Regions from separate parts of the Homo sapiens genome. Here all the other regions are linked to region 1. Evidence: fine-mapped expression QTL. A gene starts in region 1. Each other region holds a variant in brackets. All regions are shown on one strand. Distances are between the middles of the regions. Region 1 holds the start of TUT4 (terminal uridylyl transferase 4). Region 2 has its middle 22 kb from the start of TUT4. Region 3 overlaps TUT4 (terminal uridylyl transferase 4). Region 4 overlaps TUT4 (terminal uridylyl transferase 4). Region 5 overlaps ZFYVE9 (zinc finger FYVE-type containing 9).

What was found. PIP is the estimated chance that this variant, and not a neighbour inherited with it, causes the effect. A credible set is the group of variants that fine-mapping cannot tell apart.
Region 2: its variant is the best candidate, but not a certain one, in a credible set for the expression of TUT4 in prostate (GTEx, PIP 0.89).
Region 3: its variant is the best candidate, but not a certain one, in a credible set for the expression of TUT4 in cerebellar hemisphere (GTEx, PIP 0.57).
Region 4: its variant is the best candidate, but not a certain one, in a credible set for the expression of TUT4 in blood mononuclear cells (TOPMed, PIP 0.59).
Region 5: its variant is the best candidate, but not a certain one, in a credible set for the expression of TUT4 in putamen (GTEx, PIP 0.65).

The regions. Positions count from the first base shown.
Region 1 is chr1:52,550,686-52,555,685 of GRCh38, reverse strand. TUT4 (terminal uridylyl transferase 4) reads left to right here and starts at 2,594. Exons shown (of 30, transcript NM_001009881.3): 1 at 2,594-2,755. It overlaps LOC105378723 (a long non-coding RNA gene), which reads right to left. Exons shown (of 4, transcript XR_007066083.1): 2 at 4,882-5,000; 3 at 4,280-4,329; 4 at 2,849-3,445. RefSeq lists silencers at 1,892-2,291, 2,302-2,411, 2,452-2,581, 2,652-2,981.
Region 2 is chr1:52,572,855-52,577,854 of GRCh38, reverse strand. It overlaps the pseudogene EEF1GP7. Among named protein-coding and RNA genes, the nearest start is that of TUT4, 22 kb to the right of the region's middle. The variant T/C (reference allele first, on the strand shown) is at 2,559.
Region 3 is chr1:52,501,286-52,506,285 of GRCh38, reverse strand. All of the region lies in intron 4 of TUT4 (terminal uridylyl transferase 4), which reads left to right. Among named protein-coding and RNA genes, the nearest start is that of TUT4, 49 kb to the left of the region's middle. The variant A/G (reference allele first, on the strand shown) is at 3,044.
Region 4 is chr1:52,461,365-52,466,364 of GRCh38, reverse strand. It overlaps TUT4 (terminal uridylyl transferase 4), which reads left to right. Exons shown (of 30, transcript NM_001009881.3): 16 at 1,192-1,295; 17 at 4,596-4,653; 18 at 4,749-4,852. Among named protein-coding and RNA genes, the nearest start is that of PRPF38A, 59 kb to the right of the region's middle. The variant C/T (reference allele first, on the strand shown) is at 2,698.
Region 5 is chr1:52,267,907-52,272,906 of GRCh38, reverse strand. ZFYVE9 (zinc finger FYVE-type containing 9) reads right to left here. Exons shown (of 19, transcript NM_004799.4): 7 at 4,275-4,444. Among named protein-coding and RNA genes, the nearest start is that of CC2D1B, 96 kb to the left of the region's middle. The variant AG/G (reference allele first, on the strand shown) is at 2,871.

The sequences.
Region 1 (5,000 bases):
TTCAGAACTTCCAGACTGGAGGCTTAACCACAATCATGAGATTTCCCTTGAAAGTTTAAGTCCTCAGAGGATTTTTACATAGAAATCAGACATTTACCATTTTATATCTCAAAAACCTGTGGTTCAATGGGAAGAATACAGGGCTGGTATTCTAGTCCAGCCTGTGACTTACTGTATGACCCTGGGCATGAATTAAACCTTATACTCCATAAATTTCCTTATTCTTTGTGTCAGAACCATACTTGCTCTAGCTGTGATGATAAAATTATAGTTGTCAAAATTTTCAACTCGACAACTATGTAGGTATCAGAAGGAATACCTTGTAAGTATCTGTGCTGAAGTGTACAATCTATTGGGGTCACGGAATTCAGAGAATAGAGGGATCACATTCAGTGGAGTGCAGAGGAGGGGTGGTAATCAGGAAGATTTAATAAAGAAGGTAGAGGTTGAGCTGGGTCTTGGGGAATAAGCAAGGTAGTAGAAGAGAGTATCTGGAGGGGATAAGGGCAGAGAGGCACTGAAATTTTCAGTCTGGCCCCAGTTTTCTTTTCCAGATTCATTATCTTCTGCACACTCCAGAGTCAATGCTGCCCTCTGAATCACAGACATGTGTCTGGCACACAGCAGACAGATCTTCAAGGTCCAGCTTTTAGTTCTTCCACGGAAGTCTCACCAAAGTGGAATTTATCACACTCTCCTCTGGATTTGCCCAGCCCTTTGTTAATAAGACCTGTTGCTTTTATTGTAGCTCACCTGCTTGCTCAATGGGGAACTTTTTGGAGACAGGAAGCAATGATTTGTCTTTGTTTCCCTAGGCACCTAACAACGCTTTGCTCTTAAGTAATTAGGAAATGTTTACTCAATTGAACTTGTTCTAAGGACACTGCTATCACTGAATTGAAGGGCATGTCGGTATCTTCTTAGTGTCTCTATAGGCTTTAGGCTTTCAGCCGGGTGAAGTAGGGATTTTTTCTTTGTTTCCAGGCTAGTCAAGCGAAGCAGGGATACAGATTAAGAATTTGCAGATGAGGAAACTCAAGAGGGTACATTTGCTCAAAGGCATCATGTTGATAAACGCCAAAACCAGGTAGGGCTCTTTTGACTTGAAATCCAGTCCTCTATCCATTATACCTGGGCCTTGTAGCATCAGCCAGATTGGGGTAAAATGCACTAACTCTGAACCCTAGTTTTTTCATCCGTAAATGAGAGCAACAGTACGTAACTCACAGGGCTATCGTGAAGTGGAGCGTCCCTCTGTGACCTCTAACCAGTCCCAGCCTGAGTCACATTATAAGAAAATTTATAAGGCACTATCTTGTAAATACTTAAGATTTAACATCTTCCCTTCACCTCTACGTCCACTCTTTTCATACCTTTTTCCTGCCTAGCATGTGTCAAACTCAAAGGACTGGGCACAGAGCACAGAGGTTGTGTGCTTTGTCCAGCTTTGAGGTCAGAGATTGGCTAAATAATCTCTGAGGCTGGGGTCTTAAAAAAAAACAACAAAAAACAAAACTAACAAAACCTTAAGTCCGTTCCGCCCGTGACTTTAAATAATTATGTAGAGGAATGTAATACGTTAAAAGCAAGGGGATGAGGGGGCCCATTGATGGTAGATGGTTTTATGCCCGCCTGCAGCTAAAGAAATGATTTCTAAAACCTCTTTTGGGGGTGGGAGATGGAGTGCTCCAGAGATTTCTCTTCGAGCTCCTTCATTCCTGAACTGCCTGCCTTTTCAAAGGAAAAAAGGTCCAGCTGCGGTGGGCTGGAGGCCGTGGTGAGTGGGTGGGGGTCGACCCTGGCGGCTTCCTCTGCCCCGCTCCCTACCGTTGCTCCGAAGCCCGCTTGGGCTTCCGAGGGTCCGCCGAGGCTCGGGCCACGCCCAGTCCGAGTGCCAGGCCAGAGGGTACCCATTCCAGGCCGGCCTTCCTCCCCAGGGGGAGCAGCCTTGGGAGCGAGGCGCCGAGGCGGCCCTCGGGCTCGGCTTCCAGCTCGGGGGCCTCGGCAGAGACTAGGAACCAGACTGGGGCAGCACTGGGGCGCCCGCCACCCCCACCCACTCCGGCAAGCGGGCGAATCAGCGCGGCTAACCCGCGGCGCCCAGGCGGGCTGCGGGACCTCGCGACCTCCGCTCGGCGGCCCCGCCCCTGCCCGCGAGCCCCGGGTGGCTCCCTCCTCCCCTCTGCCAGCGGCCCGCCCCCTCCTCGCGAGCTAACGAGTGTCTCTCGCGCGCTCCCTTCCCTCCGCGTGGGTGTGAGTGCGCGATCCTCCTACCTCGGCCTTCTCCCCATTGTTTCTTCGCGGCCACCACGAGACCCCTCCCCCCAGTGCTGTTTCCCCCCTCCCCCGCCCCGGTGTAAACGGTGCCTGTGGGGCCCCCCGAACGAAGGGAGGGGGCACCCCTGAACCCTTCCCTCTGCGCGTAGCTCCTCCTCTCCCGGGCCAGGACCCCATTACAGGCTCTGTCCTCTCCCCTCCCCCTCTCCCCCGGCAACCGCTCTCCCTCGCCCCCTCCCCTCAGCGGGTCCTCCTCTTTCTCTCCCTCTCCCTCTCCCTCCTCCTCCCCCTCCCCATCCCTTCCCCCCCACAATGCAGTTCGCGGCGCGGCGGACATGGCGGTGGAGTCCTGAGCTAGTCGTGTCCCGGCCTCCAGCGGCGGCAGCGGCGACGGCGGCGGCAGCAGGAGGCGGAGGGAGAGCAGGAGCCACTGAGATGAGGAGGCGTCGCGCGCGCCTGTAGCTCGCGGGCCTCGCAGGTACGAGGTTCCGGCCGCGGGGCAGCGTCGGGTACCGAGGGGGTGTGCTCGGGAAGGCCGGGCGGCCCCCGGTTCGCCCTCCCCAGGTGCCGCGCTTCGCAGGTGTCGGGGGCCTGGCCTGAGAGCGTCTCAGCCGCCCCCTGGGGGCCTGACACTTCTTTCTTTCCTGGAACGGGCTTCGGGTGTCCCAGGGGAAGGCTGAGATAAGGGAGGTGGGGACGGCGGCCTGGGCGGCCTGAGGAGGGCATTGGGGCGCTTTGGGGACGAACTCCACACTGTGGCTGGGGCTCCCGGTCCCGGACCGAAACCTGTTGTAGACCAGCGGGGCGGATTTTGAGTTAACGGGATTGGTTTGAACATTTCTGTTGGGTCCAGTTACGATTCCCTGTCATGTGTACCTTTTTCTTTCACCCTTGCTTAGACATAGGTGACTACATAATGTATATAAATGTATACACGCATATAATACATACTGAATGTTTCCCCGGGCTCGTCCTTGTAGGGAGAAGGCAGAGGTGTCTGTGTGGATTTTGTTTCTTGCTCGCCCGCCTTCTCTCTCCCCCGCCCCCCAGTCGAAAGGTGGTAATGCGCGGTTTTGACGTGGGTAACTGAGATTCGTATTTGTAAACAGATAGCGCTCTCCTAGTGTGTTGCACGCCTCTGCGAAGGGTTTCAGACTCCTGTTGGTATCTGGATTGCGAAAGAATGAGATGTTTAGACCTGAAAGAAGCACATCAGCGGGATTTCTAGTCGTACTTGAATGGGATGAATTACTGTTGTATTAACAACGTTGATTACACATTTTCTTTTCAGAAGATTTCGAAGTCTTAGATGAATTTTGCGTGAGATCTTAGATACCGTATATCTGCTTCTTCATTTTGATAGAAGTAGTAGTTCCTTACACATTTGACCTGCCCTATCGTGATCTTAAATTGTGTCCAGAAATGCAATTCGAATTGTGTATTGTTGGCATGCATTTAGTAATTAGCCCGAGTGGATCAGATGGCCTTTTATTTCCAAAGATTTTTTCCCTCCAGTCTTACAGCAGCGAAATGTTTGTAGCACTTGATGAAACAGAACATATCCTGTTTCTGTTTTTAAAGTAATGAGAACTGTTAGCTAATAAAATTGGATAATCCCAGCCAGATATGATAATTCAGAGAATACCACCGAGAGGTGTTGAATTGTGGGATGGTTTAAAAAGAAAAGCCGACTTTGTGTGTGTGTGTGTATGTGTGTGTGTGCGCGCGCGAGCGCGCTGAAATTTTCTTTAGGCTTAGAACTCATGTATGTCACTACACTGCATCGTAGTACTGATTAGTCACAACTGGTAAAATGAAATATTGATTCTCTTAAAAAGCTGTGCTTAAGATAACTCATTAGTGTCTAGTGTGCTATGTTGCTTTTATAAACAAATTTTTAAAGATTGCTTCTTAGAAACCATATACTTTGGGGAAGATAAGAATTTTAAGTCGTTTTATGCTTTAAAAATATTTATATTTAATATAAACAAAAGAAACTTACTTTTAAAACTCTTAGATAAATTTTTCTGCTGCTTGCAGTTTTTCACTTGGCTAGTGTGGAAAATGAAAAATGAAGTTTTCTTAAAATAATTCAGAAATGGAAGTGAAAGTTAATGACATTTGATGTTTTAAATCCAGCAAACATTTAAATACAGAAAAGAAATTTAAAGTATTTTCATTGTCATAGGCCAAGTTGTTAGTACAGATAAATTAACAAATATTGTCATGCATATAAGTTCAAGTTTATAAATTCTAAGTGACACCTAAAATTACATTTATTTTTAGTTGCTGGAGCTAGAACAGTACAGTGTCTACATTTTAATTTTAGACCTTTTAGAATCAAAATGTATAATTATAAATTTCTCTGATTAACAAAGAGCTGTTTAAAGAGAATTTTTATTAGCTCTCAGCAGATTCATTTTAGAGTAAGTAATTAGAATTCTTTTTTATCTCAAAGTTAATCTTGACATAAAAATAAGTACCATTAATTATGTTGTGTTCTCTACAGAATGTCAAATCAGGATCTGTTGATCAAGAAAGGTGTTTGAATTTATTCACTGTTAAAGTTTCTAGTTTCAGAGAAACAAAATAACCAACACTTACCTGTAGGGCCTGGCCAGGTGGCTCACTCACGCCTGTAATCTCAGCACTTTGGGAAGTGGAGGCGAGAGGATTGCTTGAGCGTAGGAGTTTGATATCAGTCTGAGCAGCATAGTGAGACT
Region 2 (5,000 bases), 22 kb before region 1:
ACACATAGTAGCACTTTATTCATTTTTTCAGTAACTTATTCAAAATAATTTTTATTGAGCATCTGTCTTATATGCTCTAGTCCAAGTGCTGAATTATGAAACTTACTATCTAAAGGACAGAGAATGAGTAAGTATTTACAAGTATGATAAATGACACCAAAGAAAAATATAAGGCATTAAAGGCCATATAATAGGAAGGTCTAATTGTGTCTTCAGGTCAAAGAAAGCTTCCTTCAGAAGTAATGTTTAAGCTGAAAGCTGAGTAGAAGTTAGTTAGATAAGCGCTGGGAAATGGGTGGGAAGACAATGGAAGTCGGCATGTGTGAAGGCCTAGAGGCTTTAAGCAGCCAAATTTTGTCCAGGGAACTGAAGGGTGTTTAATATTGACTGAAGCACAGAGTATGGGACGCAAGAAGAAACAGAGCTTGTTGGAGGTCAGTTCATTTAGGACTTTGTGGTCATGCTGGAGTATTCACAGATCCTCTGGGCCTGGCTTTGTTCTCAGTATGAGGAATACATAGAATCGAATCAGATCTTAATGCTCTTTAATCCAAGGCCTTAAATAGCTCACAATCAGGTAGGATAGACACATTTTGACAATGGTAGTGCAGCATGATAAATATGATAATAAAGAACTGATTTTCATGGGAATTTATAGGAGTGATAATTAAGAAATAACATTATTCCATCAATTGCCTTTTAAGTTATTTCACATTGCTTCCAAATTCTTACTAAACAAGCCAATTGTAAGACTAAGTTTAGATTAATGTTACTTTTAGACACACAGAAAAATGATTTAGCCATTTAGGCTAAAAAGCAATTTCTATTACAGTTCTTGCTCTTGCTTTTTGCCTCTATACTACATCTTTCTTTTTCTTTTTTTTTTTTTTTTTGAGATGGAGTCTCACTCTGTGGTCCAGGTTGGAGTGTAGTGGTGTGATCTCGGCTCACTACAACCTCTGCCTCCCAGCTTCAAGCAATTCTCGTGCCTCAGCCTCCTGAGTAGCTGGGACTACAGGCATGTGCCACCACGCCCGGCTAATTTTTGTATTTTTCATAGAGATGGGATTTTACCACGTTGGCCAGGCTGGTCTCGAACTCCTGACTTCAGTGATCCGTCCACCTCGGCCTCCCAAAGTGTTGGGATTATAGGCATAAGCCACTGCGCCTGGCTAATACTACTTCTTTCTTTTCAACTCTCACTTATCCTTTAAGACTCTGGTGAGCTTTCCCCCTTCCACTTTACCTCAAGTAGAGTTAGAAATCTTTCCCTCTATGTCCCTGAAGGACCCTGGGATCTCTATTATAGCACTTATCACAATATACTACAAGTGTTTATTTTCCTGTATCCCCTCTAGGCTTTTATTTCCCCCAATAGAGTTCTGTATTTTTTTATTTTTTAAGAAAAAGGGTCTTGCTCTATTGCCCAGACTGGGGTGCAGGGGCACAATCATAGCTTACTGTAATTACTCATGGGCTCAAGAGATCCTCCCACCTCAGCCCCCTGAATAGCTAAGACTACAACCACACACCACCATGCCAGCTAATTTATTTATTTTTGTAGAGATGGGGTCTTGCTATGTTGCCCAGGCTGGTCTTGAACCTTTGGCCTCAAGTGATCCTCTTGCCTGGGCCTCCCAAAGCACTGGGATTATAGGAATGAATAGTGCCTGGCCTCCCACTAGACTTAAGCATAGAGATTTTGTCTTGCTCATGCTTCAATCTGTCATTCGATAAATATGTGTCAGGTACCTACTATATGCCAGACATCAGGCTAGGTGCTGCAGATTCAGTGACGACCTGGATAGACTCAGTTCTTGCTCTTGTAGAGCTTATAGTCTAGTGCAGAAGGTTGACAAGCAAATGGGCAAGAAGAGTATGTATGAAAAATGTTATGATGAGGAAAGTGTCAAGTGCCATGGGAAGCCCAGAGCAGGTGTACCTAACTTTCTTTAGGGGGCAAATGGAAGTCTTTCAGAAGGAAGCAATTTAAGCTGAGAATTGAAGAAAAAGTACAAGTTAGTTAGTCAATGTGGCAGTCATGGGTCAGAGGTGGGAGAGAGCACAACACATTCCAGAAACTGAAAGAGGACTGGGCACGGTGGCTCATGCCTATAATCCCAACACTTTGGGAGGCTGAAGTGGGAGGATTGCTTGAGTCCAGGAGTTTGAGACCAGCCTGGGCAACATAGCTAGATTTTATCTCTCCAAAAACATATTAAAAATTAGCCAGGTGTGATGATGGGCACCTGAAGTCCTACGTACTCAGGCTGGAGGCTGGAGGCTGAGGCAGGAGGCTCATTTGAGCCCAGGAGTTCCAGGCTACAGTGAACTATGATCATGCCACTACTCTCCAACCTGAGTGACAGGGTGAGACCCTGTCTCCAGCAAAACAAAACAAAGAAATTCACAGAGCAGTCGAGGTTAGGGGCAAGCAGTGAAGATTGTGTGAAGTGGGGTGTGGCCGGGGTGAGGAAAACAGAGATTGGTGTTTAGTGTGATAATTATACACATAGAAAACTCTATGTAAAGTGTTTGTTAAATGAATGGATGAGCCA[T/C]TCCAAAACCTGAGAAAGAAAGACATTTGGGAAAAGCAAATTTGTTTGTGATTGTTCATTCCTTTGTTCACTGGGAGGCATTGTAGTGTGTTGGCTAAAAGTCTGGACTCACACCAACTGCTTGGGTTTGAATCCTGGCTTTGACAGTTAATAGCTGAGTGACCTTAGACAAATTACATAACTTTTCTATGTGCCATTTTCCTCATCTGTAAGAGAGAAATGATAATAATTCATAGAATTGTCATGAAGATTAAACAAGTTAATAATATTTGTAAAGCACTTGGAATAATGCCTAGAATTAAGCACTGACTGTTTGCTATTATTATTCCTCCATTCATTGAAACATTTATTGAGGGCCAAGTACCATGCTAGGTGCTGTGAAAATATGTGGCTTCAGCCATGGAGGAGGACCATAAAATCTGGTGAGGGAGAAGATTCATAAATAAGCAATTACAACACAATGTGATCAAGTGAGGCGATAGTGGTAAATCCTGCAGAACTGAACAAGACAGAGTGACTCATTCTCTCCAAAGAAGCCAAGGGAAGCTTCAGAGAGAAGAATGTATTTAAGTTGGGTGACGCAGAATGAACAGAGTTTGGCAGCAGACAAAAGCAGTATGGTTTATCAGGCCAAGGAAGCACCATGTTGCAAAGGTTTAGTAGGATGCAAGTCTAAGGCATGTTTAGGAAATGGCAAGGGGGTCTTGAGCACCTGTTATGTGCCAGGGTCTGTGCTAGGCACTTTTTATATGTTCTTTCACTTTCCATAAGAACTTAAGAGGTGAGAATTATGGTCTACATTTTTTATGAGAAGGTGATCTGAAAGATTGAGAGACTTGCTCAAGATCGTGGAAAGCAGTGGGTCTAAATTTGAATCCAAATCTATGTGACTCTAAGGTCTGTGTTCTTTGAGGAAAGGATGGGGCCTGACAATGACCTTGTGAAGTTTTTAGTGTAGCTAAAAGTACAATACTTTTATTTATTCCTTTATTTTTTAGAGTGAGGGTCTTACGCTATTTCCCAGGCTGGAGTGCAGTGGCGCAGTCATAGCTCACTGCAGCCTCAAACTCCTGGGCTCAAGCGAGCCTCCTATCTCATCCTCCCGAGTAGCTACGACTATAGGCATGCATCACCATGCCCAGCTAATTTTTAATATTTTTTTGTAGAGACAGAATCTTGTTTTGCTGCCTAGGCTTGTGTTGAACTCCTGGCCTCAAGCAATCCTTCCTCCTTGGCCTTCCAAAGTGCTGGGATTACAGGTGTGAGCCACCACTCCCGGCCCAATATTTTTATTTTAAATTTTAATAATGTTGGATGGCAATCTTGTTAAGTAGGCACTTGGTATTTCTCAGTCGTCATAAATGGAAAAAACTGACCTTAAATTAAACTTTTTTTTTTTCAATATTCAGTTTCTTTTAATGATCCCCATCTCCTTAAAGAACAGGTACAGGAAGCAAGGCAATGGCAAGAGCTGTTTACTTGAAGATCTTGCCCTGACTGAAGTTAGCCCACATGCTGGAAGGCCCTTTTCCAGGAACAGTACTCACAAACCAGTGTCTGGGTCTCCTTGCTGCCAGGATCCAGTTTCTGCCACGTGTATGACTCGAAGACCACCTGCCAATCTGGACTCAGTGTCAAGGCCTGTGAAGACCCAGGCTCCAGAAATGGAGCTGATATTGTTGCTTCCAAAGAGGATGGCACTGGCAAAGGCATTCTTTCTCAGTTTGTTCAACTGCTGGAACATTCCAGCGATGAGATTGCAACTCCAGAAGGTCTGGGTGAGCTTCTCAGGAAAGCAATACTCAGACCAACCATCCTTATCAGAGTGCTCCCGAAAATACGGCAGCACCACATTGTGTCCTTATAGGAGTACTTGTGCTTAAATTCATCCATCACAAAGGTACTCGGGCAAGTGAGCAAAGGGGTCTTGGCTATCCGATGCTCAGCAGCCAGTGCCTGCTCACATTCATCCATCTCCTCAGGAGCAGGGTCAGCCGCCTTTTTCTCCTTTCTGTTCAGCCTAGGGCTTCTGCTTTTCTTCCCGTGAACTTTTCTCCTGTGGGGTGTCCTTTTTAGGCCTGCTCTCTGCAAATATTTTAGCATCAAATAGGGCCATTTTCTCCTATCATTTTACTTCCCCCAAGACAGCCTGGAACTGGGGCTGGTTAATGCAGGTGAGAAAGTTAGTATCATGACCACTATTTGTGATTCTGTGATGTTCTGTGTTAATATCCTGAGGGTTTGTTAGGGGATTTCCCTTTTATACGTGTGTTTCCCAAATTGTCTTTTGAGGAGCCCTGGGGTGCCCTAGCTAACTGAGGGCTCTAGAGGATATTTTGACATTTTAGGAGAAATACAAGCTGGGCGCAGTGCCTCATGCCTGTAATCCCAGCACTTTGGGAGACCCAGGAGGGTGCATCACTTGAGGCTAGGAGTTCCAGA
Region 3 (5,000 bases), 49 kb after region 1:
GAAAGAAAACTTTAGGCCAAAACTCCTCATGAACATAGATGCAGAAATTCTAAATATAACTTTAGCCAATTGAATCCAACAGCATATTAGAGGAATGAATGTGTCATGATCAAGTGGGGCTTTATTCCAGGAGTGCAGTGTTAGTTTTACATTAAAAAATCCCTCATTGGCCAGGCGCAGTAGCTCAGGCCTGTAATCCTAGCACTTTGGGAGGCTGAGGAGGGCGGATCACCTGAGGTTAGGAGTTCGAGACCAGCCTGGCCAACATGGTGAACCCCGTCTCTACTAAAAATACAAAAATTAGCTGGGCATCGTGGCTCATGCCTGAAATCCCAGCTACTTGGGAGGCTGAACCCAGAAAGTTGAGGTTGCAGTAAGCTCAGATCGTGCCACTGCACTCCAGCCTGGGCAACAGAGCAAGACTTCATCTCAAAAAACAACAAAAACAAAAAAAACCCCGCTCATTGTGATTTACCATGTTAGCAAACAGAGAAAACTATGTGATTATCTCAGTAGATGCTGAAAAAGCGTTTTCAAAAATGCTTTGATAAAAAGTCTAAGCACAGCCAGGTGCGGTGGATCATGCCTGTAATCCCAGCACTTTGGGAGGCTGAGGTAGGCAGATCACCTGAGGTTGGGAATTCGAGACCAGCCTGGCCAATGTGGCGAAACCCCCTCTCCACTAAAAATACGAAAATTAGCCGGGCTTGGTGACCCACACCTGTAATTCCAGCTACTCGAGAGGCTGAGGCAGGAGAATCGCTTGAATCCCAGAGGTAGAGGTTGCAGTGAGCTGAGATGGCGCCACTGCACTCCAGCCTGGGTGGCAGAGTGATACTCTGTCTCAAAAAAAAAAAAAAAAAAAAAGTCTAAGCAAACTAGGAGTAGAAGACGACTTCTATAACATGATAAAGACATCTACAAAGCTGGGTGTGTTAGTCCCAGCTCCTTTGGTTGTTTGAACCTAGGAGTTTGAGATCAGCCTGGGCAATATAATGAGACCCTGTTAAAAAAAATCTACAAAAAACTAACAGTTATCATCATACTTAAGTATGAAAGACTGAATGCTGTCCCCCCAAGATTAGGAAAAAAGACAGGTATGAAAGTAGTGTAGCTGCCATGGAAAAGAGTACGGTGGTTCTTCAACAAATTAAAAATAGAACTACAGTATGATCCAGTAATTTCACTTCTGGGTATACACTTGAAAGAATTGAAAGCAGGGTTTCAAAGAGATATTTATACAACCAGGTTCATGGCAACATTATTCACAATAGCTAGTATGTGGAAGCAATTCAGATATCCATTGATGGATGAATAGATAAGCAAAATGTACAGTATTCATACAATGGAATATTACTCAGCCTTAAAAAGGATGGAAATTCTGCATTATGCAACAACATGGATGAACCTTGGGAAATTATGCTAAGTTAAATAAGCCTTTTAGAAAACGAAAAATAGTGTGTGATTCCACTTACATGAGGTTTTTAGAGTAGTCAGAATCAGAGACAGAATAGTGCTTGCCATAGGTTTGGAGGAGGGGAAAATGGGGAGTTATTGCTTGATAGATAGTTTTGATTTTGCATTTGTGTTCTGTGTTATAGTATTTGGTTTTTATTTTGAGCATTATGGAGTTTAATAACATGTTTGTTTTTTTTCAAGATAGAGTCTTGCTCTATCGCCCAGACTGAAGTGCAGTGGCGCTATCTCATCTCACTACAACCTCCACCTCCTGGGTTCAAGCAGTTCTTCTGCTTCAGCCTCCCGAGTAGCTGGGATTACAAGTGCATGCCACCACGCCTGGCTAATTTTTGTATTTTTAGTAGAGACGGGGTTTCACCATGTTGGCCAGGCTGGTCTCAAACTCCTGACCTCCTGATCCACCCGCGTCAGCCTCCCAAAGTGCGGGGATTACAGGTGTGAAACAGTGCACCTGGCCATAACATGTATTTTTGCAAGGTCACTCACCCTGGCTTCTGTGAAAGAAGCCTGAGAAGGGTCTGTTTGGGGAGACCAGTTAGCCTTTCATAATAATCTAGTTAAGCTGTGATGAACACTGACCTGAAGTAGTAGTTAGTGAGAATGGAATTGAGTTTTAAGAGAGATTCAGGATGTAGAATTGTGGGAGTACAGGCCTAGGATGTCTTGAATGATCATAAGGTGTCTGATTTGATATGTTATCATAGTTTGTGGTGCCATTTACTTAGCAGAAATAAAAAATGTTTCATAACATTCTGAGTTTGAGACACTTACAGAACATTTCAAGTAGAGATGTCCCACAGTCATTTGAATATAAGGATCTGGAACTTATATTAGCAGTTGGAGATTCAGGTTTGGTAAACTTCAGCAGTTGAAATCATAGTTGTGGATGAGGTCACCAAATGAGTAAGGACAGAATGTCAAGGAATACAAACATTTAAGGGACTAGTAGAGGAAGAACAGTGAATAGATTGGTGAATGAGTAGAATAATAGGAAAAATAGAGAAAGGTGTTAGAGAAGCTAAAAGAAAGGAAAGTTTCAAGATGGTAGTTGAAAATGTGATAATATAGATAAAAATAATCTAAAAGCTTAAAAGATGTCTGATTTGGTGCCTGTAGTCTCAGCTACTCAGGATGCTGAGGTGGGAGGATTGCTTGAGCCCAGGGGTTTGGGTCCATACTGGGCCACGTAGCAAAATCCTGTCAATTAAAAAATAAATAAAAATTTAAAATGTCAGATTTGGCAACTAAGGAGGTTTTGATAATCCTGGGAAGAACAGTTTCTGCTTTAGAACTAAAAAAGACATAGTTTTGAGTGAGAAGGGATAAGGAAATAAAAGGAGAATAGACTCAACTTTCAGGAAACTTCATTGTGCAGAAAAGAAGGGAAGATTGGTAGTAGCTAGACTGGCACACAGTTTTTTTTTTCTTTTAATTTGGCAGAGTAAAGTTCTTATCACAGTTTTAATTTTTTAATTTAAATAATCATTTAATTAATCTTTCTCTCTTGACTGTAAGCTCCATGAGGGCTGGGATTATATGCATTATTTTTTTCCCATCTTAGCAC[A/G]GTACCTGGCATATAGTTGTTCCATAAATATTTGTTGATTAATGATTTAAATGGAGTGGAAAGAGCATACGGGTTGGAGTTAGAACTAGATTTAATTCTCAGTTCCACCTTGTAGTTGTAGGACGATATTTAACATCTGTAAGCCTCAGTATTCTTATGTATAAAATGGTTTTGGTAGTATCTATCTGGGGAGTAATATTGTGAGAATTAAATGACATAACATCTGTAAAGCACTTGGCACGGTGCCAGGTCCATAGTGGGTACTCAATAAATGATAGTTGTTGCTGTTAGTGTAGAGGCGAAGAGTGCTTACTTAATGTGCCAGGCTTGGTGGCTCACGCCTGTAATCCTAGTACTTTGGGAGGCCAAGGAAGGTGGATCTCCTGAGCTCAGGAGTTTGAGACCAGCCTGGGCAACATAGTGAAACCCCATCTCTACCAATAATACAAAAAATTAGCTGGGCGTGGTGGCACGTGCCTGTGGTCCCAGCTACTTGAGAGGCTTAGGTGGAGGAGCGCTTGTATCTGGGAGGTGGAGATTGCAGTGAGCAGAGATTACTCAATTGCACGCCACGCCAACCTGGGTGACAGAGGGAGTGAGATCCCATCTCAAAAAAAAAAAAAAAAAAAAAAAGAGGGCTAAGAGGGCTTACTTAATGAAAACACAGACTAGTAGATTGTGTAATGTTTAAGGAGAAGGAGATTATTACTGAGTGGGTAAAGAAGGATGGAATTCAGAGCACAGGTGATAGTATTAATCATGATTTAAATGGAGCATTTCATTATGTTGGAAAAGAAAGATATTAAGGGTTCGCTGAATATTTGACTTTTAAGCTGTAACTTGAAGGATGATTAGTTTTACCAGGTGGATACACATAGGGGACAAAATGATTTAAAGGCATGGAGACCCAATGGCACATAGAGTATTTGGAGACTGGTGACTGTTTAAATGTGGATGTCTGTCAAAAATATTGGAGAGGGTGGAGGGAATGGTTGGAGGAAGGCCTAGAAATGCAAATTGAGACCAAAATGCTTTATATTCCATGTTAAGAACATGTTGCATTGTCTTACCGGCGCATTGAAGGTTTTTTTTTTTTTTGAAATTTTTTTATTGTGGTAAAATATATATAAGATAAAATTTACCATTTTAACCATTTTTAAGTGTACAGTTCAGTGACATTAAGTACATTTACATTGTTTTGCAATCATCTCCACTGTCCACCTTCATTCAGAACTTTTTCATCATTCTATACTGAAACTCTGTATCCATTAAGCAATAACTCCCCATTCCCCTCTCCCTGCAGCCCCTAGTAACCACCATTCTATTTTCTGTTTCTATTTGCTTGTCTATTGTAGGTACCCCATATAAATGGAATCATACATTATTTATCCTTTAGTGTTATTTCACTTAGCATGTCTTCAGGTCAACCGCGTTGTAGCATCTGTCAGAATTTCTTTCCTTTTTGAGGTTGAATAATATTCCATCGTATCTGTATGCCATGTTTTGTGAATCATTTCATCCATGGATGGACACTTGGGTTGTTTCCACCATTTGACTGTTGTGAATAATGTTGCTGTGAACATCGATGTACAAATACCTATTTGAGTTCCTTTTTTCATTTGTTTTTTGTATATACCCAGAATTGGAATTGCTGGGTCAAATGGTAAATCCATGTTTAGTTTTTTGGGATTGCCATGCTGTTTTCCACAGTGGTGACATCATTGTACATCTTTACCAGTAATGCACAAGGGTTCCAAATTCTCCACATTCACACCAACTCTTGTTTTCTGCCTCCCCCCGCCCCCCCATAATAGCAATGCTGATGGATATGAAGTGGTATTTCATTGTGCTTTTGATTTGCATTTCTCTAATGATTAGTGGTATTTAGCATCTTTTCATGTACTTATTTGGCATTTGTATATCTTTGGAGAAATGTCTATTCAAATCCTTTGTTCAC
Region 4 (5,000 bases), 89 kb after region 1:
CGCCTTCTTTTTTATCTTAAAAAATTTTTGTAAAGACAAAGTCTCACCATGTTGCCCAGCCTGGTCTCAAACGATCCTCCCACATTGGTTGGCTTCCTGAAGCGCTGGGATTATAGGAGTATATAAAGTATTGACCAAATCTAAGTCTCTATTATATAAAATCATGCTCAGTTTTATTTGCTGATGAGTATAGCTTCTTTTTTGCCTCTCAGCTATCATTGAAATTTCAAGTAGAGCATCAGAACTGGATGGGGGTATGAAGTTTTGAAAGTATAAAGTGTCCTATAAATGTGTAGTCTACTTTAGAATTAATAGGAAGAGCCAGGCCCAGTGGCACACACCTGTTATCTCAGCCACTTGGGAGGTTGAGGTGGGAGTATTGCTTGAGGCAAGGAGTTCAAGACTGTAGTGTATAATGATTGTGCCTGTGAATAGCCAGTGCACTCTAGCCTGGGCAATATAGCAAGACCCTGTCTCTAAAAAAAAAAAAGTAATAGGAAGAAAAATCCAATTCTGTTAAACCACAGCTTATTTGAAATGGTAGCTGTTATTGGATGACACTGAGTCTGAAGGGTTAACCCTATCATAATTTATATCAAGTGGACTATAATCACTCATTTTTGGAAGAGCATCGTATACTAAGGTGATATTTGTAAACCTACATGAATTGTGCTTTGAAAGAACTAATTTATTTTTAAGAGGGCAGTCCTCAAATATTGATCTTAACTATTGGTAGTGATGTTGAGAATGTATAAAAGCAGATGGATTTATTATGTAAGTCGGAAAAAGCTAAAAGTCTCAATGATTGTTTGGATGTGGACATTGAGAGACAGATATTAAGGATTGCACCTGTATTTCTGATGTGGGCATCTGTGTACATGATGGTACTATTTGCTAAGAACAGGGATAATAGAAATAGTAATAGATTTGGGGCAAAGTTGATAGTTCAGACGTGTTGAATGTATGATGTCTGTGGAAAATTGGAAAAAGCAGTTGGGTACATGGGTATGGGAACTTGGGCAAAAGCTTGGGCTCAAGATGTTTTGGAATTTCTCAGTATTTCTTCCAGTGGTAGGTAATTTAAATCATAGAAATGGACAAGAGCATGTTGTATTAGGTCATCAGCAGATAGCAGAAGACTCCTCCTCTCTGCTTATAATAAGGCCTTGGACTTTGTTTTCCTTTGCTTAGAAAAGGCAAGGTTGTGCTTATTTGGCTCTTCTAAGAATGGATTTGGATTTCGTGATAGTGATCTGGATATTTGTATGACCCTGGAAGGCCATGAAAATGCAGAGGTAAGAGTGTTTGGAAAGCGTTATGTAAGTTTATTTTCTCCCAATGACGATTCTATGTTTATTTTTGTATGTGATATTGATAAAAATGTGGTATCACTCTTTGTATAAATATATTAGCAAAATAAGTGTTTGAAATATGAAAACAGTAGCATTTTCAGTTTAGAAGACATTGAACTCTTAAGTAAAAGTGTTTCAGTAATTTTATGATACAAAAACCATGTCACTGAGAGTTACAGTGATTTGTAATGAATTTTGGGAAAAAATATATCACGAAGTTGGAATTTTTTCACTAGAACCAATGGGAAGCTGATGCATCAGTTTTGTAGTGAACATTGATCTTTCATACTTTGTCTTCTCATATCTCTTTCATTAGATGATGTCTTTGTGTTACTATAGGTAGTAAATATAGGTGGTCATCTAATTTATAATTGGTTTTGTTCTAAAAGTTAGTTATAATTTTTGACCACTCACATAAAATTTTTTCCATAGAAGCAATGTTACAGATGATATGCTAAGGGCTGGGCGTGGTAGCTCATGCCTGTAATCCCAGCACTTTGGGAGGCCAAGGTGGGCGGATCATGAGGTCAAGAGATCAAGACACTCCTGGCCAACATGGTGAAACCCCGTCTCTACGAAAAATAAAAAAAATTAGCTGGGCATGGTGGCACGCGCCTGTAGTCCCAGCTACTCAGGAGGCTGAGGCAGGAGAATCGCTTGAACCCAGGAGGCGGAGGTTGCAGTGAGCCGAGGTCACGCCACTGCACTCCAGCCTGGTGACAGAGTGAGACTCCGTCTCAGAAAATTAAAAAAAAAATAAATAAATAAAATGCTAAGATAGCTTTTAGAAACTCATTTTGGGCGGGGAGGAGAACTAACATTTATTGAGTTCCCAGTATACACTTTTACATACATTATCTCATTTCATTCTTACAACCACCTTCGAGGTAGGTATTATTTCCCCCATTTTACAGATGAGGAAACTGAGGCTTTGAAAGATAAACTGACTTGTCCAAGTTCACACAGCTAGTAATTGTTGGAGCCGGGATTCGTAACCCAGGTCTGTCTGACTCCAGAGTTCATGCTCTTTCCATTGTATCTCACTGCCTCTCTGTAATTTTTTTAACCCATAATGTAGCTGAAATATAGTACTAATAGTACTGTAGAACCTAACCACTGCTTTCTGAAACTGATAGCTTTCTGAGTTCCACCGTGAGATGCCAGGAGCAGACCTTCCCCAAGTGCAATTTCAGCAGTAAGAGTGGGTACTTACGCTTTCCTTTTTTGTATACCAGGCCTTAATAGTGGGAAGGAGATTGTCCAAGCTCCAGGGAAGAAAAAGACTGATTGGACAGGGAAGAAGTGTCCCAGGCCTTCTCAACAGCAACTAGCAAAGGAGGGTATC[C/T]TTGTAGATGTTCAGTCCTTTACCAGCCTAGCTATTGTTATTTATGTTTCAAAATGCGGGACTGTTTGCAAGATTGGGGTGAGGCCCAGCTTCTGGCATCTGTAGTGGTGTCAGTATCGCCTCTGTTACATTATAAAAGAATTCAGCAGAATAGTGTGCTTTTCTAAAATCATTCTTTTGAACGGTGGTTTTGAAATTGTTAGACCCGGAGTAAAGATGGCAGTGATGACTTAACTTCTGGCCATAAGAAGTTGCTTCTGGTGTCTTAACATCTTGTTTTATAAAGAAACTGAAAAGTTGCAAGTATTTTATTTGTTCTCCTTTACTTAAATTCTGCTTAGAGCCACCTACTTGGAAAGTGGCTGCCCTTCTCCATTCTGAAGAGTAAGAATTGAGGGAATAGGAAATGATTTTTATACCCAGGAAAGAGGTTAGAGTTTTAGATATCTTCTATGTAAAATTTATTAAACTTCTAATCACTAAGGGTTTGTATATTATATATAATCTGTGCCATTCCTACTGGGAAGTTGAAACAATGAAAATAATAAATCATTTTCTTTCAGATGAGCCATAATTGAAACTTTTAAGATTAGCATAATTGTATCGTTGAATAATAAAGAGAAAAATTACCTCCTTTGTTAATTTTATCATATGTGAATTAGTAACTAATGGTTTCTTTGAAATCCTTTGGTTTAGCTGCAATGGCTCCTGCTCTCATGTAGCTAAAAAGAACATGTTGGAAAAATGCAAATGACTTTATAACTCTTGGGATTGATGTTTATACCCTTCAGCTATTTCCAGTTAATTTTTAATGCCATAATCATTATGTATTATGATTATCATTACCATACCAACTCTGCTGTCTCTGGTTTTTACAAGAGTAACACATTTAAATTTACAGAGGTAAGAATTTCCTTGGAGAAATAGGTGCTGGTGATAATAGGAGTATCTTTCTTTTCCATATCAACATAATTATAATAAATAACTCACAGATTTAAAGGCTTATTTTGTGCCAGGCATTCTGCTGAGTGCTTTACATACATGTCTCATGTAATCCTCCCAACAGCTCTGCAGGACAGGAGTTTATGATTATCTTGATTTTATAGAATAGTAATGTAATGCTCAGAGAGGTTAAACATCTGGTTAGTCACACAGCTAATCAATACTTAGTTTAAGATTTGAGACTGGGTGCAGTGGCTCACGCCTGTAATCCCAGCACTTTGGGAGGCTGAGGCGGGCGGATCACGAGGTCAGGAGATCGAGACCATCCTGGTGAACACGGTGAAACCTGGTCTCTACTAAAAATACAAAAAAATTAGCCGGGCACGGTGGCGGGTGCCTGTAGTCCCAGCAACTCGGGAGGCTGAGACAGGAGAATGGCATGAACCCGGGAGGCAGAGCTTGCAGTGAGCCGAGATAGCACCACTGCACTCCGGCCTGGGCGAAAGAGCAAGACTCCGTCTCAAAAAAAGAAAAAAAAAAAAAAAAAAAAGATTTGAATCCAGGTTTGTCTCAATTTGGAGCCTATGTACTTAATCAGTATATTGTTTTGCCCTCACCAAACTCACCTCTAGTTGTTTATTCACTTATTGAAAACCATATTCTTCTCCTGTCTTTGTGCTTCTCAAACTTTAATCTGCATGTGAATTACCTTGGGATCCTGTTAAAATGCAGATTATGATTTAGTAGACTGGGGAGGGTCCTCAGATTCTGCATTTCTATCAAGTTTCCAGATTATGCTGATACTGTAGGTCTATGAATCACTTACTTGGAGTAGCAAGGTTATTATAGAGCTTTATGGCTGGAAATTGTAAATGCTACTATTAAATGCTTAGATTAAAGTAGAATTTGCACAAGGTGAAATTGAGTCAAACTTATTTATTTGATTTGTTTTTTAGAAATTAAATTGTAAGGAAATAATTGAAAATTTGGCAAAAATTCTTAAGAGACATCCAGGTATGAATTTTGAATCTTATCTGTAAAACAAAATAAATTTTTTTAGCATATATGAAAATTATTTAACCTACTGAAGTCTTTTTTTTTTAAATTAGGTTTAAGAAACATTTTGCCTATAACTACTGCCAAAGTGCCTATAGTAAAATTTGAACACAGGCGAAGTGGGTTAGAAGGCGATATCAGTTTATATAATACGTTGGTAAGTTTATCTTTATAGGCCATGTATATACTTTTCATTTTAAAAGTTTACAGATTACTGACTCTATGTTTAAAACTTTCAAATGTGAACAGTATAAGGAAAAAGTATTTTACTAGTTATCTTGATAGTTCCTTCAGATTGAAGGTCA
Region 5 (5,000 bases), 280 kb after region 1:
GCAGATTGTTTAAGGACAGGAGTTCAACATCAGCCTGGCCAATATGGTGAAATCCCATCTCTACAAAAAATATAAAAATTAGCTGGGCGTGTGCCTGTAATCCCAGCCACTTGGGAGGCCGAGGCAGGAGAATTGCTTGAACCTGGAAGGTGGAGGTTGCAGTGAGCCGAGATCCTGCCACTGCATTCCAGTCTGGGCAACAGAGCGAGACTCAAAAAAAAAAAAAAAAAAAAGATTATTTCTAGCAGCTTCATTTCATTCATAATAGCCAAAAACTGGAAACAATTTGAATGGCCACTAACAGGAGAACATAACATAAATGATGGCATATCCATACAATGGAATACTACTCAGAAATAAATTAATTTTTGATGCATATGGATAAATCTCATAATATTAAGTTGAGCTTAAAAAGCTAAACACAAAACATTATATACTATTGTTTGGATTTATATGAATTCAAGAATAAGCAAAACTAATCTGTAGGGACAGAAGTGAGAACAATGGTTACCTTGATGAAAGGAGAAGGTACTGACAGAAAAAGTGCATAAGGAACCCTTATGGAGTGCTGGAGATGTTCTGTATCTTCACCTGAATGGTGCTTACATATTTTATGTGTGTGTGTTTGTGTGTGTATACACACATGCACATATATATAAAACCATGTATAAATTCAAGGTGTTTCCTAAAGATTCATGCTCCTTAGTCATGCATTTTGCTACATATATTGTATACCTGAACAAACATTAAAACTATTTCTTCAAAATATGGCTGGACATGGTGGCTCATGCCTGTAATCCCAGCACTTTGAGAGGCCAAGGAGGGGAGATCACCTGAGGCCAAGAGTTCAAGACCAGCCTTGCCAACATGGTGAAACCGTCTCTTACTAAAAATACAAAATTTGCCAGGTGTGGTGGTGGGCGCCTGTAATCCCAGCTACCCAGGAGGCTGAGGCAGGAGAATCACTCAAGCCCAGGAGGCGGAGGTTGCAGTGAGCTGAGATCATGCCACTGCACTCCAGCCTGGACAACAAGAGCAAAACTCTGACTCAAACAAAGAATAAAATAAAATAAAATAAATATGCCCATGTTTTGCCATACTTCTGTCTCTACTTAGGACAAAGTTTTTAGGACTATACATTTTTAGTGGGATTTCTAAAATTTTCCGGTATGGCATCATATAGGAACTTTATAAAATTTTACTGGCAAACTACCATTAACTGACTTGAAGGCCTGGTACAGAAAATAATCTATTCTAACCTACTATTGAATGGTGCAAAAATCCTCCTTTTAATATCATAAAAAGTGGTCAGTTGGTCTCTACTTAAATGCCTTCTGTGAAAAGGCATTTACTGTGGGGCTTAAAATCTAGATGACGGGTTGATGGGTGCAGCAAACCACCATTGCACATGTATACCTATGTAACAAACCTGCAGGTTCTGCACATGTATCCCAGAACTTAAAGTATAATAATAATAATAAAAAGACATTTACTTCATTTACTGGGCACTTGTTAAGTGCCAGGCACTCTACTAGACCATAAAAATAAGAAAAATATTAATATTTTCTAGTCTGGCATTAAAGAGTTTGCTTTCTCTCATTTTACCACATAAATATTAGAGTGTTGCACAATGTGAGAGCACAAAATAATGTGGCTTAGCCTGTCTTATAATGAGCAGAAAATTGTTTCCCTATAACATTCACTCACTAGACTTTCCTCATTCTTTCAAAAATATTTATAGTTTAAGAACCCATCATACAAACTAAGAGATAGGAAAGAAATTTAACAGAAAGAGAAAATCATCACCCTCCTGCCTCAGCCTCCTGAGTAGCTGGGACTGCAGGCATGTGCCATCATGCCCAGCTAATTTTTTAATTTTATATAGAGACAGAGTCTGACTATGTTGCCCAAGCTGGTCTCAAACTCGGGGTTCAGGCAATCCTCCTGCCTTGGCCTTCCAAAGTGCTGGGATTACAGATGTGAGCCACTGCACCCAACCCAAACTAATACTTCTTGATGTGATCCTTTAAGAAATCACCCTCACTTATGTAGGATTGTCATTACTGCCAAAAAATGTTTAATCTGAAACTAGTCATGAGAAAAAAAAAAAACAGACAAATACAAATTGAGAGTATCATGTAAAACATGGCCCAAATACTTAAATATTAATGATATAAAAACTTTAAAAAAGAGAGAGAACTATTCAAGATTAAAGCAAACCAAAGAAATATGACAACTAAATGCAACTGTGGTCCTTAATGAGATCTTGATTTTTAAAAATAAATTTTATTTTAAAAATTAATATATCTGTGCACACACATATATGTAAAAATGAAAGCTATAGGCCAGGCGCGGTGGCTTACGCCTGTAATCCCAGCACTTTGGGAGGCCAAGGAGGGCAGATCAGGAGGTCAGGAGATCGAGACCATCCTGGCTAACATCGTGAAACCCCATCTCTACTAAAAATACATAAAAATTAGCTGGGCATGGTGGCGGGCGCCTGTTGTCCCAGCTACTCGGGAGACTGAGGCAGGAGAATGGCGTGAACCCGGGAGGCGGAGCTTGCAGTGAGCCAGGATCGCACCACTGCACTCCAGCCTGGGCGACAGAGCAAGACTCCATCTCAAAACAAAACAAAACAAAAAAATTAAAGCTATAAAGAACATTATTGTGACAATTGGGGAAACCAGAATTACATGTTAAGTTTCCATCTCATGTGATAATTGCATTGTGGTTGTATAAGAAAATGACTTTTCTTAGGGTACACAAGCTGAACTATTAAGTGGTGAAGTGCAACCAATCCTTAAATGGGTCATAAAAAAAAAGCGTGTGTACTGTGAAGTGGTAGAGCAAATGTGGCAAAATGGTTA[AG/G]TTGATGAAGATAGGTGAAGAGTATATGGGTATTCACTGTACTATTCTTGTAACTTTTCTGTAGGTTGAATTTTTTTCCAAATAAACAGTTGTGGCCAGGCTTGCCTACAGTCCCAGCTATTTGGGAGGCTGTGGCAGAAGGATTGCTTGAGCCTGGGACGTTAAGGCTGCAGAGAGCCATGTCTGCGGCACTATACTGGAGCCTGGGCGATAGAGTGAGACCTTGTCTCAAAAAAAAAAACCAAAACAAACAAACAAAAAAACAGTTGGGGGGAATAAAGAAAAAACTTTCTTGACAAAGTCACTGTGGAGATACAAAGAAGGATAAGACACAGTTCTGGCTGTCACCCTCTGCAGCCACAGAAAAATTCAAAAACTAGAAATATTTGAAGACAGATATTACATGGTTCAATAACTCACCAAACAGGTAAGTCAGCTCTGCATGTCAAAAAATCTAATCTTAACAACATGCAATTTCAATTACAATCAAACTCACAAATTATATAGGATGTAAATGTCTAAAAAAATATTACTTATCATTAATATAAATAATTAGTAACTAACAATTCTATGAAAACATCAGGAGTAAAATTTTTATCCAATCCTGATAGGGTGTGGTGGCTCACACCTGTAATCCTAGCACTTTGGGAGGCTGAGGGGGTGGATCACTTGAGGTCAGGAGTTCGAGACGCAGCCTGGGCAACATGGTGAAACCCTGTCTCTACTAAAAATACAAAAATTAGCCTGGCATGATGGCAGGCGCCTGTAATCCCACCTACTTTGGAGGCTGAGGCAGGAGAATTGCTTGAACCTGGGAGGTAGAGGTTGCAGTGAGCCAAGATCACGCCACTGTACTGCAGCCCGGGCAACAGAGACTCTATCTCAAAAAAAGAAAAAAAAGTATCCAATCCTAATGTAAAATGTGGACTTGGGTTGGCTACGATGTGTCAGTGTAGGTTCAACAAGTGTAACAAGTGTACCACTCTGGTAGGGGATGTTGATAAGCCAGGGTTTTAAACTCAGCTCCTCAGGCCCTTTCATGTTACCTGCTCTTCCTCACCATAGCACTCCTGAGAGGCTGCCATGGAACCTGGGGAACATGCTTTAAAAACCAATGTAGCAAGGGGACAGAATTCCCCACAGCCCGACTGCTAGCTAAAGTGGAGCACCTGAGCTCATCTGAGAACAATCTTCATTAAGAACCTTTCTCCTGAAAAAACTTCTAAATATACAGCAAAGAACAGCAGCTGATTTTTGCCACATTTACTTTATCCATATATGTGCACGTATACACTAAGTTGTATCCAAAACCTACAGAGTTCCACACAAAAGTAATTCAACAGAGGCAGCACAATGCTGAGTAAAGTAGCTATGCAATTTTAGTTGCTGTTTTGTTTTCTTACCTCTGCTGGTAGAGGACTGGTAGTTACTGGCTTGACTGGGTCGTGTGACACAGCCAGGGTTCCTGCAGAGGAAGTTCCATTCATTGTTAATTTGGCTGCATCAGCAACTTCTCCATTGGGCAAGATCCCATCAGCAAACCAAACTCGCCTCTGCTCTCTGGGCTGAGCCACTTGAGGGGCCAGAAAAATAAAACAGGCATCAATGTGGCATTGGAAGGTTTTCTAACATCAAAGAAGAGAAGGTCACCAATTCCAGATGTACAAAGAAATCATTACTTGGCAACTTACAATCAGAAACATCAGAAATGTAACTGTATATAAAAGTGGTTATAAATGAATTAAAAATACAAATTTAAATATATTCTTTACTTGTTTAACTTATATGCAAAGAGTAAAATACTTTGCTTTGAAATATTAAGAGTTCTTAAATACATCTATGATTATGTCACATACTCTGTCCCGTATCACTGACAGAGAAACTAAGGAAAGTGTTCAAGGGCCTCGGAAATAAATTAATAGCATGGTGAAAAAAGCAATAGACATTCACATTTTCTAAAGTTATGAGGTTTCCAAAGAAATTAAACATCTGGTAAAGTGATATGGTACTTTCAAAGGGCAAAAGATGCCCTGAAGAATGTTAAAGAATAATTCATTTATAACAGAAGAGCTGGCACAGATATGTAAGAATTGGGAAGCAAACTGACCAGATCTTTGCCTGAAGTGTAA